2 separate regions of the Homo sapiens genome follow, and region 2 is linked to region 1. Evidence: fine-mapped expression QTL. Tissue or cell type: whole blood. Region 1 holds a variant in brackets; the other region holds the start of a gene. All regions are shown on one strand. Distances are from middle to middle.

What was found. PIP is the estimated chance that this variant, and not a neighbour inherited with it, causes the effect.
Region 2: it holds the start of ZNF596, and the variant in region 1 is fine-mapped to the expression of ZNF596 in whole blood (INTERVAL, PIP above 0.99).

What each region holds. Positions count from the first base shown.
Region 1 is chr8:207,689-215,880 of GRCh38, forward strand. It overlaps the pseudogene RPL23AP53. Among named protein-coding and RNA genes, the nearest start is that of ZNF596, 21 kb to the right of the region's middle. The variant A/C (reference allele first, on the strand shown) is at 3,947.
Region 2 is chr8:229,110-237,301 of GRCh38, forward strand. It overlaps ZNF596 (zinc finger protein 596), which reads left to right and starts at 3,347. Exons shown (of 6, transcript NM_001042416.3): 1 at 3,347-3,585. It also overlaps the pseudogene RPL23AP53. RefSeq lists a silencer at 3,114-3,213 and an enhancer at 3,234-3,553.

The DNA.
Region 1 (8,192 bases):
CTTCCCGCCATCCCAGGCAGGCTGACAGCAGTCACGTTTGTATCTACTGCACCTGCCTCTTTTGAATGTCTTTCTCTGCCCTAATCTGTACTTATGGTGCCAGGTTTCTCTTAGGAATGTCCCCTTTGTCCTTCTTATCAGCATGTAGCTAGCAATATTCTGACATTTTTATTGCAGTGAATGATGATTGGGGCATCTTAAGAGAAGTTCTAGGGTGTTTCTGTGTAGGTACCTCTTCTCCCTCCTAAGCACAATTGACAAGTGCCCATCCACTCCAGCACTGGAGATGCTACTAATATGTGCATTTTTGGTGGTCCCTCCAGGTGAGCCTTCACAGACTTTCCCTTTTCCAGGAGCTCCCCCTCCTGTTCACGTCTAGCTAGCTATCTACTCTAACAGAGCCCACTATCCTGTGTCTTTCCCAAAAATAGTGAGGGAATGATTAATTGGAAACCATAAGAAATCATATGCATGTAGATGAAAACTTTACAACTTACACAAATAACCACTCAAAATCATCCTTACACTAAAAATGCAAAACTATACAATTTCTAGAAGAAACTATAGAAGAAAAGCTATGTGCCTTTGCGTTTGGTGATGAATTTTAACAAATGACACAGAAGGTTGATATACACAGAAGAAATGACAATGTGGATTTCTTAATATTTACAGTTTATACTCTGGAAGAGACCTTGTTAAGAGAACCAAAAGACAAGCCACATATTGAAGAAAATATTTGCAAAATACAGATCTGAGAATTTGTATTCAAAATACATAAAAAATTGTTAAAACTAAACAATAAGTTAAACAGCCCAATTAAAAATGCACACAGATCTGAACAGACGCCTCACCAAAGAAGATCTACAGATGGCAAGTACACTTACAAAAAGATGCTCAACATACTAGAGAACTGAAAACCACAAAAAGATAGCACAGCTGGTCTATATCTCTTAGAACTGCTAAACTCTTTAACAAATGACAAATTGCTGGAGGAAAAACAAGAACTCTTTTCATTGCCGGTGGAACACAGTGTATAAGACCAAAATATGCCACCCCAAAATATAATGGTAGGAAACCAGAATATGCAACCCCAAAATATGTCCCTTTGGCTTAAGAATTATTCCAAGCTAATTATTTTGAAAAAAAAAAATGCTAACAAAGGAAGTTGTGAAAACAGAGAAGTTACACTTGTGTAAGGAAAATTTACATCTATAAAGGAAATCACCATTTAAAAGCTACCTCTCTCGACACCAAGAAGAGAAGGATAACTAAATCACTAAAGAGTCTTATCAATGGAGAATGCATGGACTTAAGTCTGTATAATGAACCTTACCCTTGTCTAATGTGCTTTTGCTGGTTAACTCCCCAATACTGCACCTCAAATCTTCTTTCTTTAAGTTGAAGACAGTATTTATGCTTGAATTGAAAGCCACCTGTTGGAGATTTACTCATTTTTCCCTGAATATCTCCCATGTAACCATAAGGTATACGTGTTTTTCAACTTTTCTGTTTTTCTCATTTTAATCTGTCAGTTTTTACAGAGCATCCCATCTAAGAATTCCGAAAACAGAAAATTATTTTTCCTCCCCTATTACAAGTTGGGCATTTTTTTCCAAAGCTAAACAAGTCTCACCTTACAATCCAAAAATAACATTCCTAAGTATTTTGACAACTACTTTGATGTTATTTCCAATCAAAAGCTACCATGCAATTATTTACATAAGCCCTATTCATAATGACCAAAGGAAAAAAACGGAATCAGAAAGTCTTACAATAGATGACTGTATGGGAATCCACTCAGACATCAAAAGTTGTTATAAAGATTATTTAAATGAAAACATTTGAGATACTGAAGATAAAAGAAGAAATCTTACCACAACTTACTTTGTCCAATTAAAGCAGAGCTCCCAGAAAAATACAGCTGCCATTAACCCCATCCAAGGAGTTTCTTGCAAATTCAGCTGCCATGAAGACAGCGTACTCTTTCGCATTAGCATTGATAAACAAAAATTAAATTATAAGCTCCCAACTGACTGAACAGAACCACTCTTGGCTGAGGGGACCACAGAGTAACTTTCAAAACTGAGTTCTCAGCTTTGCTAGGATGGGATGATGGGGTTAACATACACATCGTTAAACCCACTCCTTTGCTAACCATGATGAGGCTTTCTTCCCTAAGGATTTAACAGAAACCAGCCCTTTCAAAGCCTCCACTACCGATATCAACCTCTCCTTTCTTGCCTGATAAGAGACCACCCACAACAGAGAGGTTCTGGCCAGCGTACAGAGGATGCACAGAGCGAGTTTTCATGTCCTCTGCTTCACCTTTTAATGTCAGAGGGCTGAAAACTCCACCCTGGGATCATGCTAACACTGCCATTTTTTGTACATGGGACCCATGAAGAAGCCAGAAACTCAATTGTGCATGCATGCATTTCTCCTTCCATAAATATTCATGACTCCTCCTGGAGCTTATTAAATAAATGTATTTGGCCATTCCAGTCAGCATAAATTGCTATTTCCTTTACCTCCTCCTTGAAGAGTCTGTTTCTGGCTTCTGGCTGGAGGCTATGCTTCCCAGCCTGTCAGAAGGACAACCCTGCAGGCTACAACCCTTTATAGGAAATAAATCTCTCACTGGTTGGGTGGCTCATGCCTGCAATCCCAGCACTTTGGGAGGCTAAGGCAAGTGGATCACCTGAGCTCATGAGTTTCAGACCAGCCTGGCCAACATGATGAAACCCTGTCTCTACTAAAACTGCAAAAAATTAGCCAGGTGTGGTGGTGGGCATCTGTAATCCCAGCTAATCAGGAGGCTGAGGCAGGAGAATCGCTTGAACCCAGGAGGTGGAGGTTGCAGTGAGCCAAGATCACGCCATTGCACTCCAGCCTGGGCAACAAGAGTGAAACTCTGTCTCAAAAAAAATAAAAATAAACATAAAAATGAAGAAATGTCTCCTTTCCAAATTTATGAACCTCATCATTCTTCCGTTGACAGCATTAAAAGGTTCAAAAAGACCTTTCCATACTCTCCCACAGAAGCCCTAGAAATTGTCATTTTGTTCATCATTCTGGATGCCTGAGAACTTGTAATCCAATGAGTAGAAAGTTTGGTACCCCATTTATGGCTGTCAACCCGCCAGTTCTCAGGAGTTTGTATAAAAGCCTAAATCCGAAAGGATCTCATCCCATTAGGACCCTTGTCTCCTTTTCTGTTGCCTTTGCCCACTGGCTCTGGCAACAGGGGTCTTTCTTTCTCCTTGGCTATCTTTGGATATGGGGGCTCCGTCTTCTGTGCCACCTTAGGGAATGCCTTTTGCAGGCATGGCTAAGTCATTAAAAAGCCTTCAGTTTCAGTAACATTTTGAGTGAGCACTCTCTGAAGCTGCGTTGGAATCTCAGGCTTCTTTGTCTGGAAGATAACTCTTGGGCTACAAGTTTCTTATCCTAGCTTTGGTTTTGAGGCCTCTCTGTTCTCCTCTTGGGTTGGAAGTTATTCCTGGCTTTTTGTTTCAAGGTGTCTCTGTGATCTTGAACTTGCTCCTTTCATGAGAACTTCTCAGTTGACTAAATTCTCCCTTCTCAAACCTCTGCTATGTGTTCCACCAATATGGAACTAATTCTATTTCCTTTCCTGTTTACATGATTTTACTAAGAATTATTTAGAAATTTAATCGCTCCTTTGAGAAAATTTTTATCTTCCAAATTGCCTCCTTTTAGACTTTTCCTTTCCCAGTTGAGTCTCTCAACTCCCTGTAATCACTGAAACTTTAGGCACCCCACTCCATGCCTTGGAGTGCTCTCCATGCTCTCAATGTGCTCAAGAATCTGCAAAAGCAAACATCTGGGGCTGAAAAATAAAATAGAAAAAATTTTATTTCTCAGCCTCCATAAGATTGTATGTCCAAACAAAAGAAAATCTTAAAAATCTCCAAAAATATTGGTG[A/C]GAAAAAAGCTTTGGCCCTCATATGAAGAAGATAAAAACTTGTTCCATTTTCCAGATACACAGTTATAATACAAATACAAAATGGGGCAAAGACAAAAACCAAGTCTTCTATATAAACTAGTGAATTTTGTATTATTGTAATAACATTAGTCAGGGTTCTCCAGAAAGGCAGAATCAATAGGATATATGTAGATAGATGAGAGAAGACTCATTAGGGGAATTGGTTCACATAATTATGGAGGCTGAGAAGTTACACAATAGCCTGTCTCCAAGTTGGAGAACCAGGAAAGCTGGCAGCATGACTCACTCCAGATATAAAGGACTCAGAATCAGGGAAGCCAATGGTGTAACTCTGATTCTGAGGCCAAAGCTCTGAGACACTGATTCTGATGTCAAGGGCAGGAGAAGAAGGATGTTTCAATTTCAGGAGATAATTCACCTTTCCTCTTCCTTGTTATTCTATCTGGGCTCTCAACCAATTGGATGGTGCCTGTATTCATCCATTTTTATACAGCTGTGAAGAAATACCTGAGTCTGAGCAATTTATAAAGAACAAAGAGGTTAAATGGGCTGACAGTTCCACGTGGCTGCAGAGGCCTCACAATCATGGCAGAAGGGGAAACAAAGACGTCCTTCTTCACATGGCAGCAACAAGAAGAAGTGCTGAGCCAAAGGGGAACAGCCCCTTATGAAACCATTGGATCATGAGAACTCACTCACTGCCATGAAAACAGAATGGCAGTAACAACCACCATGATTCAATCACCTCCCACTGGGTCCCTCCCACGACATGTACGGATTATAGGAACTACAATTCAAGATGAGATCTGGGTGGGGACACAGGCAAACCATATCAGTGCCCATCCACACTGGGTCAGGGTTATCTCAGTGTCTTCCAGAAACACCTTCACAGATATGCCCAGAAATTGTGTTTCACCAGCTACGTGTGTCTCTCAATCCAGTCAAGTAGATGTCTAAAATTAACCATCAGAATATTTATGCCTGTTTCATGGCTGAAATTGTTTGACCAGCTATGTATGTTTCTTAATCCAATCAAGTAGATGTCTAAAATTAACCATCAGAATATTTATGCCTGATTCATGGCTGAAATTTCAGGATGAAAGCTATGAAATCTCTATTTGTGTTTGTATATCTATTACTGTATGTAATGTATATGTGATATTTTCTTAACTCCGGATAGCACTGCAAAATTCATTTATAAAATCCTATAAAAGTGCTCTATTCTAACTTGGCTTGGAAAAAAATAACCATTTATAAATAAATATTCACCAAACTCCTAGAAATATAGGAACTGATCAAATGTTTTTTAAGTTAACATGATTTGGATAAAACTTACTTAAATGAGATTAATATAAAATTTTTGGTGTAATAAAACTATGTCTTCAAAGTTATCACTTGAATATAAAACAAACATAAATTCCTATTCTGCTTGAGTTCTAGTCAAATAAGCTAATATTATACTTACAGAAATGTAAAATCTTAAAGCTTATAGATTTGATTCTAATTAAGTTGTCACTCTTATGAAAAACATTATTCTTTTATGGTGAAAAGATACACATGTATTTAGAGTTAGCCAGCTGGACTCAGTTTAGATGATCCCAATTTTGTTGCAACATCCAAAGCTTCATAATCAGGAGCCAGTCGAACATATATGCCTTGTTCTCTTTATCAGGAAAAATCAGGGTGGTGACCTTGGCCACATCACTGTCATAGACCTTCTTCACAGCCTGTCTGATCTGGTGCTTGTTGGCTTTAACATCCACGAAGAACACAAGCATGTTGCTTTCTTCTATCTTCTTCCGGCCCACTCAGTGGTCAGCGGAAACTTGATAGCATAGTGGCCAAGCTTGTTTCTCCTGGGGGTGCTCTTCCGAGGATATCTGGGCTGCCTCCGAAGTCGCAGTGTCTTGGGCCGCCTGAAGGTGAGTGACATGCGGATCTTCTTTTTTGCGTGTGGCTGCGGACACCTTTCAACACTGCCTTCTTGGCCTTTAAAGCCTTCACTTTGGCTTCGGCTTTAGGAGGAGCAGGAGCTTCCTTCGCTTTCGGTGCCGTCTTGTGAAAAGCGAAAAACATTATTTCAAAAATAATTTGTTCACAGTAAATCTGCCTAATAGTAGTTTCCAAACTACTTTTGCTAATTTTTAACCTTAAACTTAAGCTAAGTAAAAGATTTGCATTAAATATCTAGACCATTTATAAATAAGATACAATACTAAAACATTAATTACTGAACATAAATAATTCAAGTTTATATACTTTTGGCTTCCTGTTTTTACAGAAAGACTAAAGATATTTTGGCCCGTTAATAAACATGTTTTTTTCTGCCACACTGAGAAATTGTATTATGAGGAAATACATCCCTCTAGATGTTGGGAGACAGTATATTCATACATTTTCTAACCTACTATAGAATGCTAATATATGACAGTTTATAACTGACTACTTCCTAGTTTTCTCTGGAAAATAAAAGATTACTAAGTATTAAAATTATAATCAGTATATGTAAATAAAAAGATTAGAAATAATGGAATAACTAGAAACAACCCCATGCAAAGCATGCAAGAAAAGTAGGGCATGTTTCACAAGTAAAGTAGGATGTATTTTTTATAAGGAAAACCATACATAAGATACAAATAAAAAGAGATACCTAACCTTCCCTGTGTTACATTTGTATGGGTAAAATGTTATGTTTTCAGAAATGATATAAAATTCCTGTAAATTTGTTATGTCCTCCTTATCCATGCTATGTGCCAGTATAGAGTAATGAGTCATAATTCCAATTATTATTTTAAATATTGTGCCGGGTGCAGTGGCTCATGCCTGTAATCCCAGCACTTTGGGAGGCTGAGGAGGATGGATCACAAGGTCAGGAGATCCAGACCATCCTAGCTAATTTCTTACTTTGAGATTGCTATCCACTATTTTTATATATACGTGTGTGTGTGTGTGTGTGTGTGTGTGTGTGTGTGTGTGTGTATTCCAAATCAGTTGTCCTAGCTTGCTCCAGCATGCCTGGGCAGAACTAGACAAGCCCCAGCCCATAATACATGCCATTCCTTATTTGGAGATGCTTCCTTAACTATCCCTGGGCAACTTCCTTTTCTTTCTTTGTTCTATTCCCCTTACCTAATTAAGAAAGTGTTAAACTAATAGTCAATCGGGTAAAGTGTAAAATGTGAGGTCCTATTTCAGCCAGTGGAAACTGGACACAGCACTAGGGTAGACACATCAGGTTATAAGTAACTCTGTCTCCTTTGTTTGGTGTGCTCTTGTGGCTGGACAGCTATTGAGTAGCACCCTTTATGCAGAAAGTAAAGCTCGCCTCACTAAGACATCATTTGTTCCCACGTTGTTTTTTTTTTTTTTTTTTTTTTGGAACACCAAAATCTTCATTCCCAACAGCACTCTGAGAAAAGCCAGCCTGATACCTAGATTACAGGGTTCACAGCCTTCAGGTTAGTAAAGAAGGTCATTTCCCGGTAGGCCCAGGAATTTGGGGATATTTTGGGGGCCTCAAGAAGAGAGGAATTCACACAAAGCCATAAGGACTGCGGCTGAAATTTGATAGTATGTGCTTGGCTTGGGTTTTAGCCTGAATAAGGCCTTTAAAAGTCAAATCTGAGATTCTGTATGAAAACTTCCAGCAAAGAAACTTGAAAGCACCTATGTGGTCATCTCCTGTTCTTGCTGCACTTATGTAAATAATCAAGCAAAATCTAACAAAACTAGACTTATTTTTAAAACAAGAATAGTCTTACTTTGATTATGATCAAAAATGATGGTTACTACAGAGAGAAATTTTATGTTTCAATGGAAAACTATAATTTAGCCGGGCATGGTGGCACATGCCTATAATTGCAGCACTTTGGGAGGCCAGGAGTTCAAGACCAGCCTGGGCAACATGGTGAAACCCCATCTCTACCAAAAATACAAAAATTAGATGGGCATGATGGCATGTGCCTGTAGTCACAGCTAATCAGGAGGCTGAAGAGGGAGGATCGCTTGCACCCAGGGGGTAGAGGTTGCAGTGAGCTGAGATTGCACATTTGCACTCCAGCCTGGGCGACAGAGCCGGACCCAGTCTCAAAAAAATTTTTATTTCTTTTTGAGAAATTTGACCCCCACTGTGTCAGTGTGGGGCGGTGGGGCCTAGTGGAAGGTGTTTGGGTCATGGGGACGGATCTCTCATGAATACATTAATGTCCTCCATGGGGGTGAGTGA
Region 2 (8,192 bases), 21 kb after region 1:
TGTGCTCTGAGGGACACATGCGTGTTCCGGGGGTTATATGAGTGTGACGGCTGTAGCGTTAGGTGACGATGTCATCTCCGCGTTCCAAGCGTTATGTGCGCACTGAGGGACACATCCACGTTCCCGGGGTTGGATGTGGAAGGCAGCTACCCCGACGGGTGTGCTCTCTGCATACGACGGGTGCTAACACTAGCATCACAGATGCAGTGTTATTAGCACTACAGAGGTTATTGTCAGTGTGGCGGGTGTTCTAGTTGCTTTCCTGACACTACATTTCTGTTCCAAGACCGCAGCTTGGCCCTGTGGCCGCCTCGCCTTGGGTGTGGAGAATGAACCTCGAGTGCGCTGGATTCACAGGGGATTTTGGTTTCTAATTTTCCACATGAAGGGTCTCTACCCCTCAGCAGTCAGGGCTGAAAACAGGAAGGATTTTACTCAACCATGGACGCCGCCGGCTCAAGGTGTCCCAAAGCGAGGGGCGTTTCCTGGTATGTGCTGAGGAGAACGCGGCTCCCGCCCTTGCAGGGTGCAGGCGCGGAGGAAGCGTGCGGGATGCGGCCGCCTCAAGGCTCAGAAAAGCCGGGCTCGCGCGTGCTCTGCTGGCGGCCGGGGGCACTGCAGCGCCCTAGAGCTCAAGGCACTGTCGGAAGCTGAGCGCCCTCTGCTACCCCTCCTGCTGCACCAACTAAAAGACAGCATGGAGTGTTCGGCGCCATCATTCTAGAAATGCAAACTGACACAGAGCCCATTAGCCCGTGAGTTTCTAAAAATGCAGAAGGGACAATTAATTGGAAACCATAGGAAATGAAATCAACATGAATGCACATTTTACAACTTATGCAAAAAGTCACTCAACATAGTCCTCAGACTTAAAATGCAAAACCGTCAGAGGCCTCTTAACCACAGTGACTTTATTTCAAATAAAGGCTTTTAAAAAGTTAAATCTGGGCAGGGTGCAGTGGTCACATCTGTAATCCCAGCACTTTGGAAGGCCAAGGCGGGTGGATCACTTGAGATCAGGAGTTGAAGACCAGCTTGGGCAAATAGCAAGACCCTTATGTCTACAAAAAATATATATATATATTAGATGGCATGCTTGCACATACCTGTAGTCCCAGCTACCCAGGAGGCTGAAGCGGGAGGATTGCTTGAGCCCAGGAGTTCGAGGCTGCAATGAGCCAGCCATAATCGCACCACTGCACTCCAGCCTGGGCGACAGAGTGAGACCCTGTCTCTCTCTCTCTGTCACACACACACACACGTTAAATTTGTTGGATTATATATTTCGGGGGTTGAGCACTTTTCGTTATAAAATATTTATGATTGTGGGAACAAGTTAATAAAGACATGAAAGTTATTTAAATGTCCCAGAACTTTAAGAACAAAAAGCATTCTTAGTTTAAAAATAAGTTTTACTTTAAAGGTAACAGTACACACATAAATTGTTGTTAAAATCGACAGTAACAAAGAGAAGTAACAATACTAATAGCCTGTCACAAACTGATTCTTAATAACCTATATAAACAAACATTAAGCCCGGGCGCCGGGTGGCTCATGCCTGTTATCCCAGCACTTTGGGAAGCCGAGGCAGGCAGATCACTTGAGGCCAGGAGTTCCAGACCAGCCTGACCAACATGGTGAAGCCCAGTCTCTACCAAAAACACAAAAAATTAGCCGGGTATATTGGCACGCACCTGTAATCCCAGCTACTTGGGAGACTGAGGCAGGAGAATCCTTGAACCCAGGAAGCAGAGGTCGCAGTGAGGCGAGACCATGCCATTGTGACAGGAGAGAAACTCTGTCTCAAAAAAAAATTATATGTTTACAACAGGTGCATTTCTCCTCTTGCTTTCTGAGGACGCCCTGCTATGTAGCTGAGTAGTCACTAATAAACTATCTTAACTTCACTATACTCTGTGACTTGCCAAAAGGTCTTTCCCATGTGAAATCCAAAAACCTGTTCTTGGGGTCTAGGACAAGACCCATTTTATAATGACAAAACTATACAAATTCTAGAGGGAAACATAGAAAGAAAGCTATGTGACCTTGCGTTTGGCCATGAGTTTTAACACGACACTATCAGAGGCATTTGAACCCCTCCTCTATATGAACTCCAGGGTGGTTTATGTTCCATTGGCTAAGAGAAAGTTTTCTTCAAAAATGTGACATGATTTGAGGTCAAACATTAATATCAAGTAAACTCAAAAGATTGAGAAGCTAGCATTAGTTCTGGGAAAACCAGAAGTGTGCCTTTTTTGGAAATAATCATTGGTAGCACAAACTTAAGAATCTCCAAAGGAAATAAAAATGAGTTATTAACTTACAGTTTTCACCAATTAAGATATAAATGAAGCTAACGAAATCCGGAAATACAATTTCACTGTTTTTAATGTTCATTAAAAAAAAATCCTTATCAAATAGCCCCAGTAAGTCACCAATTAAGTCTTTACTACTTAAAAGCAAAATCCACCTATGTCCTGAACAGTATCCACTTTACGAGCCTCATTATATGTACGAGATAAAATTCAGAAATAAATAAATATACATGTATACGTATACAAATATATTTCAAATTAAAAAATACTTTTAGATAGTGGTATGTATTACATTTAGAAATTAATAACGAAGTAAATTATGGGATGTCATCCACGCCTGTCCCAAAGGTACCGAATTTATAAATCATCTCAGGTGCGGAGCAGGACAGGTTGAAAATAGGAATGACATGAACCCGCGCGGAACAGCTGCCGGCGCGGTGTCCAGGGCGGCACCCCGCCCGGTCCCGGCCCCTCCAGCCCTGGGCCCGACCCCTACTACGCCTCTGCCTCGACGCGAACGCGGAGCCCGAGCGCGCGTCACGCCGTGTGGGGCCGAAGAGGCTGCTACCCAGAGGCGGAGTGCGGGCTCGCGAGGGTCCCCACCCGACTCTCGCTCCCGCCAGCACCTACGGACTCGCGTCCCCGCCGCGCGCCGACTCGGGAGCAGCACCGCCCCCGGCACAGGAGCCTCACGCGCCTCTTACCTAACAGGAAGTTGGGTGGAAGCAGCGCGGACCCACGGCACACCGAACGCACTCCAACAGAACCCGACGCAGACACGCGCTTTCAACCGGCGGAGACACTGGCAGGGCCAGAAACGCGCGCAGCGGGGGCGGGAGGTCGGTAAGCTCCCCGCCCCTGCCCGAGACCCCGCCCCGGCCCGGCCCCGCCTTTTTCTCTGCCTCCCCTCCCTGCACGTACGGGCCCCGCCCCTCGCGCGACGTTTTTTGTTGACCCGGAAACGGATTCTCCGGAGCCGAGGTCCGCTCGGGTGAGTGCCCTCCGCTTTTTGTGGCCAAACCCAGCCACGCAGTTCCCTTCCTGCGGCGTCCTCCACACCCGGGGTCTGCTGGTCTCCGCGGATGTCACAGGCTCGGCAACCGCCCTCCTGTCGGCGGGGAGTCCCGCGACGCCCGGAAATGCTCCGAAGCCTGTCGCCCAGCTGCCAGATCTGCGTCTGTGTCCGGTTCCGTCACTGAGGTCGCCCCTGTCCGGCCCTTCCACCCTAGTTCTCTTCACCGTCCGCCCATCCTATCGCGCGCGGCCTCAGGTCCCGATTCGGCATGTGGCTTGTCTTCCATCGTCCCCACCCTCGCCCCTCTTGGCCCCTCAGGGCAGCCCTGGGATTCGGCAGACGCCAGTCCTCCCTGAGATGCTTCCCCATCCTTCCCTCCGCCAGGCCCTACGTCTCCGCAAACCCCACGCTTCGGGGTGGCCGCCTCAGACAGGACCCTGAGTCCGAGACTGGGGTAGGGGACCTGCCCGATCCTGTAACAACCCTCGTGCTTCTGCACAATCGCCTCCCACTAGCGGTGACTGTTGGGTGTTTACCTTCCCGGTGTCCCACTGAGAAGCGGGCTCTTCCTTGGCAGGGGCTTCTTCATTGCCTCGCTGTGGATGTCGAGGTGGGGCAGGAGAGTGAGGAGAAAACAGAGGAGGGAGGTAGAGCCAACGAGCGAGAAAAGGGGAGGGAAGTTTAGATGGGAAGTGGATGGGTCTGAGGAATTTGAACAAACACCGACAATGAAGGAGAGTGACCTGAGCAAGTAGTAGTGGGGTAAATGGAAATAGACAAAATGGGAATCAGCAGAGATATGGAGGACAGAATACAATGAGGAGGCCTTGACCGTCAGTAGCAGAGAGGGCAGCAGAAGCCTAATTCCCAAATTCTTTAGATGGTTTTCTGATTTCCAAATTAGTTTCCCTTTTAAATTTATTGTGTCAGGTTCAGCTTATGAGGCCTCAATACTTTTCAGTCTTAATTGTATATTGAAAATACTTTTTGTTTACTAAATGCTTTTTACATTAATTCAGTGTGCACTTCGTAAGGATAATGATGATTTGAGTTAGTTTAGTATTCAACAGCTTCCTCTATTCCTTTATATGATCTCTGTATTTAATGGCTGTGGCATAAAGTTTCCAACTAAGTTTAAGTATCAAGTTTTCTTTGTGCTGTTTTCTGCAAATATTGAAGGATGACCTGGATTGTCCTAGAACTTTGTTCCAACAGATTACATGTGTTCATAATGAATAGACTGCTCAAAGATATTTCCAAAGCTCACCTTTTATGTTTTTCAGTTCCAATAATTACATCTTTTTAAGGTTTATATTTTTTGATGACTTAATGTGATGTTCTGGAGAAGACAAATGCTTTTAATCAATATGATTAAAACCGTGAAAGACAAATCGCTGTTACTTAAGAGTGTGACATATGATCTGAAATCTTTAGGGGGCAGGGATGTTAAGGGAAAACTGCCACTATCGTATTAAGGTCATGCCATTCCTGTGAAGCTGGTGCTTGTTACTCTCTACTGGCTTCTGTTCACCTTTCCACCGGCCCCAAGACACACACATAGTGACACAAGGCAGTGGACAGGGAAAGAGCAAGACTTTATAAAGTAAGCACACAACAAAGGTATCTTTCTAATGAGGAGGAGGTGTTGGTTCTGGGAAGGAAGCTTGGGATTTGGGTATTCAGGATCCAGAAGTGAGAGAGCCTGGGAAGTTCAGGAACCAGAGAAAGAAAAAGCCTTGCCCATTCTCACCCATGACACTGTGCTCAGCAGGTACTAGCAGACTTCAGGCTCTGTGACTAAAAGGGGTCAGACCAGTTGATATACCCACAGCTGCCATGTAAGGATGTGTGTGGACTTCACTAGGGAAGAACGGTGTTATGAAAGAAGGGGCAGAAAAACTCACCTGTTGGTCTGCATGTAGAGGTTTATTGTCCTGAATTCCTGGAGGTTCAGTGAAAAGCAGAAGATTGTCTTTTACACATGTTGAGTTATGCCCCCATATATGTGGTTGTGGTAAAGAAAGAGGGTGTGTTGATGAGAGGTCCTGAAATGCATTTTCCTAATACTCAGCAGGGGCTTCTCAAGAAGGATCTTCCCTAAGAAAGAAGCTCAGAGAACAAAAATGGAAAAGGATTAGATATGGCACTTTCACTGGAAAAAGTCATGTTATTCATTGATTGTTTTGTCATCTCCCGCCTTAAGTGTTGTTTTTAGGATGTGGTAATCTCTGACCCTGCCTAACACATTTCCCAACTCACCCATAGCCTTCCCTTAACGTCCTCCCATCTTCACGCTATCACACTGTGACCCAGTGAATTCGAACTTGTGAAGTTCCATTCGGGGGATCATATGGGAAGGGCTTCACACCCAGACATAGATTATAGATGGGAAGTGGGCCACATGGTGTCAGTGAGGCAAGTATGGGTCGTTTAGGGACAATGCACTGTCAGATCTTTGTTGACCATGATTAGAGAAACTGTGCATATTAGTAGTGAATTAATGTCAGGAATATCTGACAAATCCTGGAAAAGAAGATTGATGAGAGGAAATGTGTTCTGCCCAACTGTATAATGCATTTGAAGCTTAAAACAATGAATCAGTATTGATCTGGCCACAAAATATTAATGATTTGAATTAAAAAGAAAAGTTTAGAAAATGATAGCTTTGACAAATTAAGGTAGCATTTCATCCACACGATGGAGTGTGTTTTATTCAGTAATTGATTTAAAAATGGAATCAACCTAAGTGTCTAACAGGAGGGAGTTTTATAAATTGTTCACAGAACATCTGTTCCAAGGAGACCTTGATGTTCATAGATTTGTAAAGAATGCTGCTTACTAGCACACTGACTGCTCTGCAAATGTCTGAGGGTTCCTCCACTTGGGGCAAGTTGGGGGTTTGATCGCAGAGTAAATAAATGGTGCATTTTATAATGTAATATATTCTAGCAAGATGCAGCCCACAAACTGTATAGATACTCTTATGTACCACATAAAGTTCATCTACTACTTTAACCAGAACTTGATACTGTATGTATGTTTTTTTTTTTTAGATTTGGATAAAATGACAACTCATTGTTATTTCCAGTTCACAAAGTAATTGTGAGGCTGAATAAATTTTATTATTTTATAGACATATGTGTAAAATGAATTTTTCTATGAAACTCATTTTTGATGTATATTAGATGCTATTTTATATTCTGTAGTTTAATTATATGTACGCACACACAAACACACACTTCGGTGTCTTATTATGTTTCTGCAGTGAAACCAAAATCCTTCCTTCACGCCCTTTGATTTTATGTTTTCCTCAGGAAGGCAGGAGCTATTGTATATGATAAAATATTATGTTTTATTCAGTCCACTTATGAAATTGTTTAATATTGTTATAAATATTTATATGACTTATTTTAAATTTCCAAATAACATAGGTTACATGAAATTTGACAACTTTATTTTTTTCTTTTCACAACTATTTTGACTGTATACTCACCAAAAATCAAAATTTAGACAAAATTGACTTTTAGACTAATTCTCATTTTTTACATGTAAAAGACCACATGGGACTTTTAAGTCTAGGTTGCCCTGAGTCTACAGTCACTGAGGTTTTATGTCACTATGTCCTCCATTCTAATAATAGGATTTTCAGGCTTTATTCATGTCATTTTTATATCCTCATTAAGTTTTAAAATTTATTTACATGGGTCTACAAATTTATTTCAAATCGTAGTCATAATATTTGCCTGTTGTAAATAGACACTGATTTTGTGTGTTTGCTTTTTTTAAGGACTAATGTTGCTAAACAGGAAATATTGATTTCAGAATATTCATAATAGTTTTGCCCACTTTTTAAATATTCTTATTAGTATTGATAATTAGAATTGATTCCACTTTTTCAAGTTTACAGTCACGTCATCTGAGAATAACTACAGTTGCAGCTCTTTGACTCCATTTTTGTAGTCCCTCTCCTTTTCCCTCTTGTTTTGGTCCCACCTCAGGCATCATGTGCAGTGGTGAATGGCATCAGCCTCACCCAGCCTCCTTTTTCCAGCCTTACCTTTAGTGGAAATGGTTCTTTTGTTAACTGCTGAATATATTGTTGAGATTTTATTGATTAAGAAGAATTAGTCCCCACAATTTGGTATGATTTTTAAAGATTTTATATTATTTTTAAAGATTTAAATTATATGAAAATGTTTTTTCAAAGGTCTATTAATGTGATTTTTTTAATCTTTAAAATTACTTTGTGAAAATGATAGGTTTTCTAGTATGGAATTATCCTTTTATTATTGCAATAAACTCCACTTTACCATGCTCTGTCATTATTTAACCATACCAGTGATGGCCAGGTGGCCAAAATAAATAGCCAAATGGCTAAAATTGTATTGATGATTTTTGCAAATGTAAGTAAGGAAAATTGTTGGTTAAATTTGTAGTTATTGTTACATTCATGTTCATTTTGATTAGCATAATAAACTAATGAGGACAGGCTTATTTTTCTCCTTCAAAATAACTTAGGTTACAAAGGAACTAGAAGTGATTTCACATGTAAGAACTCTCACAAATCACTTTTACAGTTAAACTCTGATATATAACTTAAACATTAAAATTGGCTAATCAGATTTTTGTGCTGATTAATGAGGGAAAGTTTTTACTCTTTTTGTGGAAAGTAATATACATATTCATGTTGGAATATAATTATTCCCATTTCTTAGATTTTAAATTACTACTTTTAAATAAATACAGTCTCTTTTATTAACCTGTGTTTTTTCTTTCCACCGTGGGTCTTTTCAGTTTCATGATTTTGCTCTCAAAACTTTTTAATTATTGATTTCTGTCAAATCTGTTCATTCATTACATTA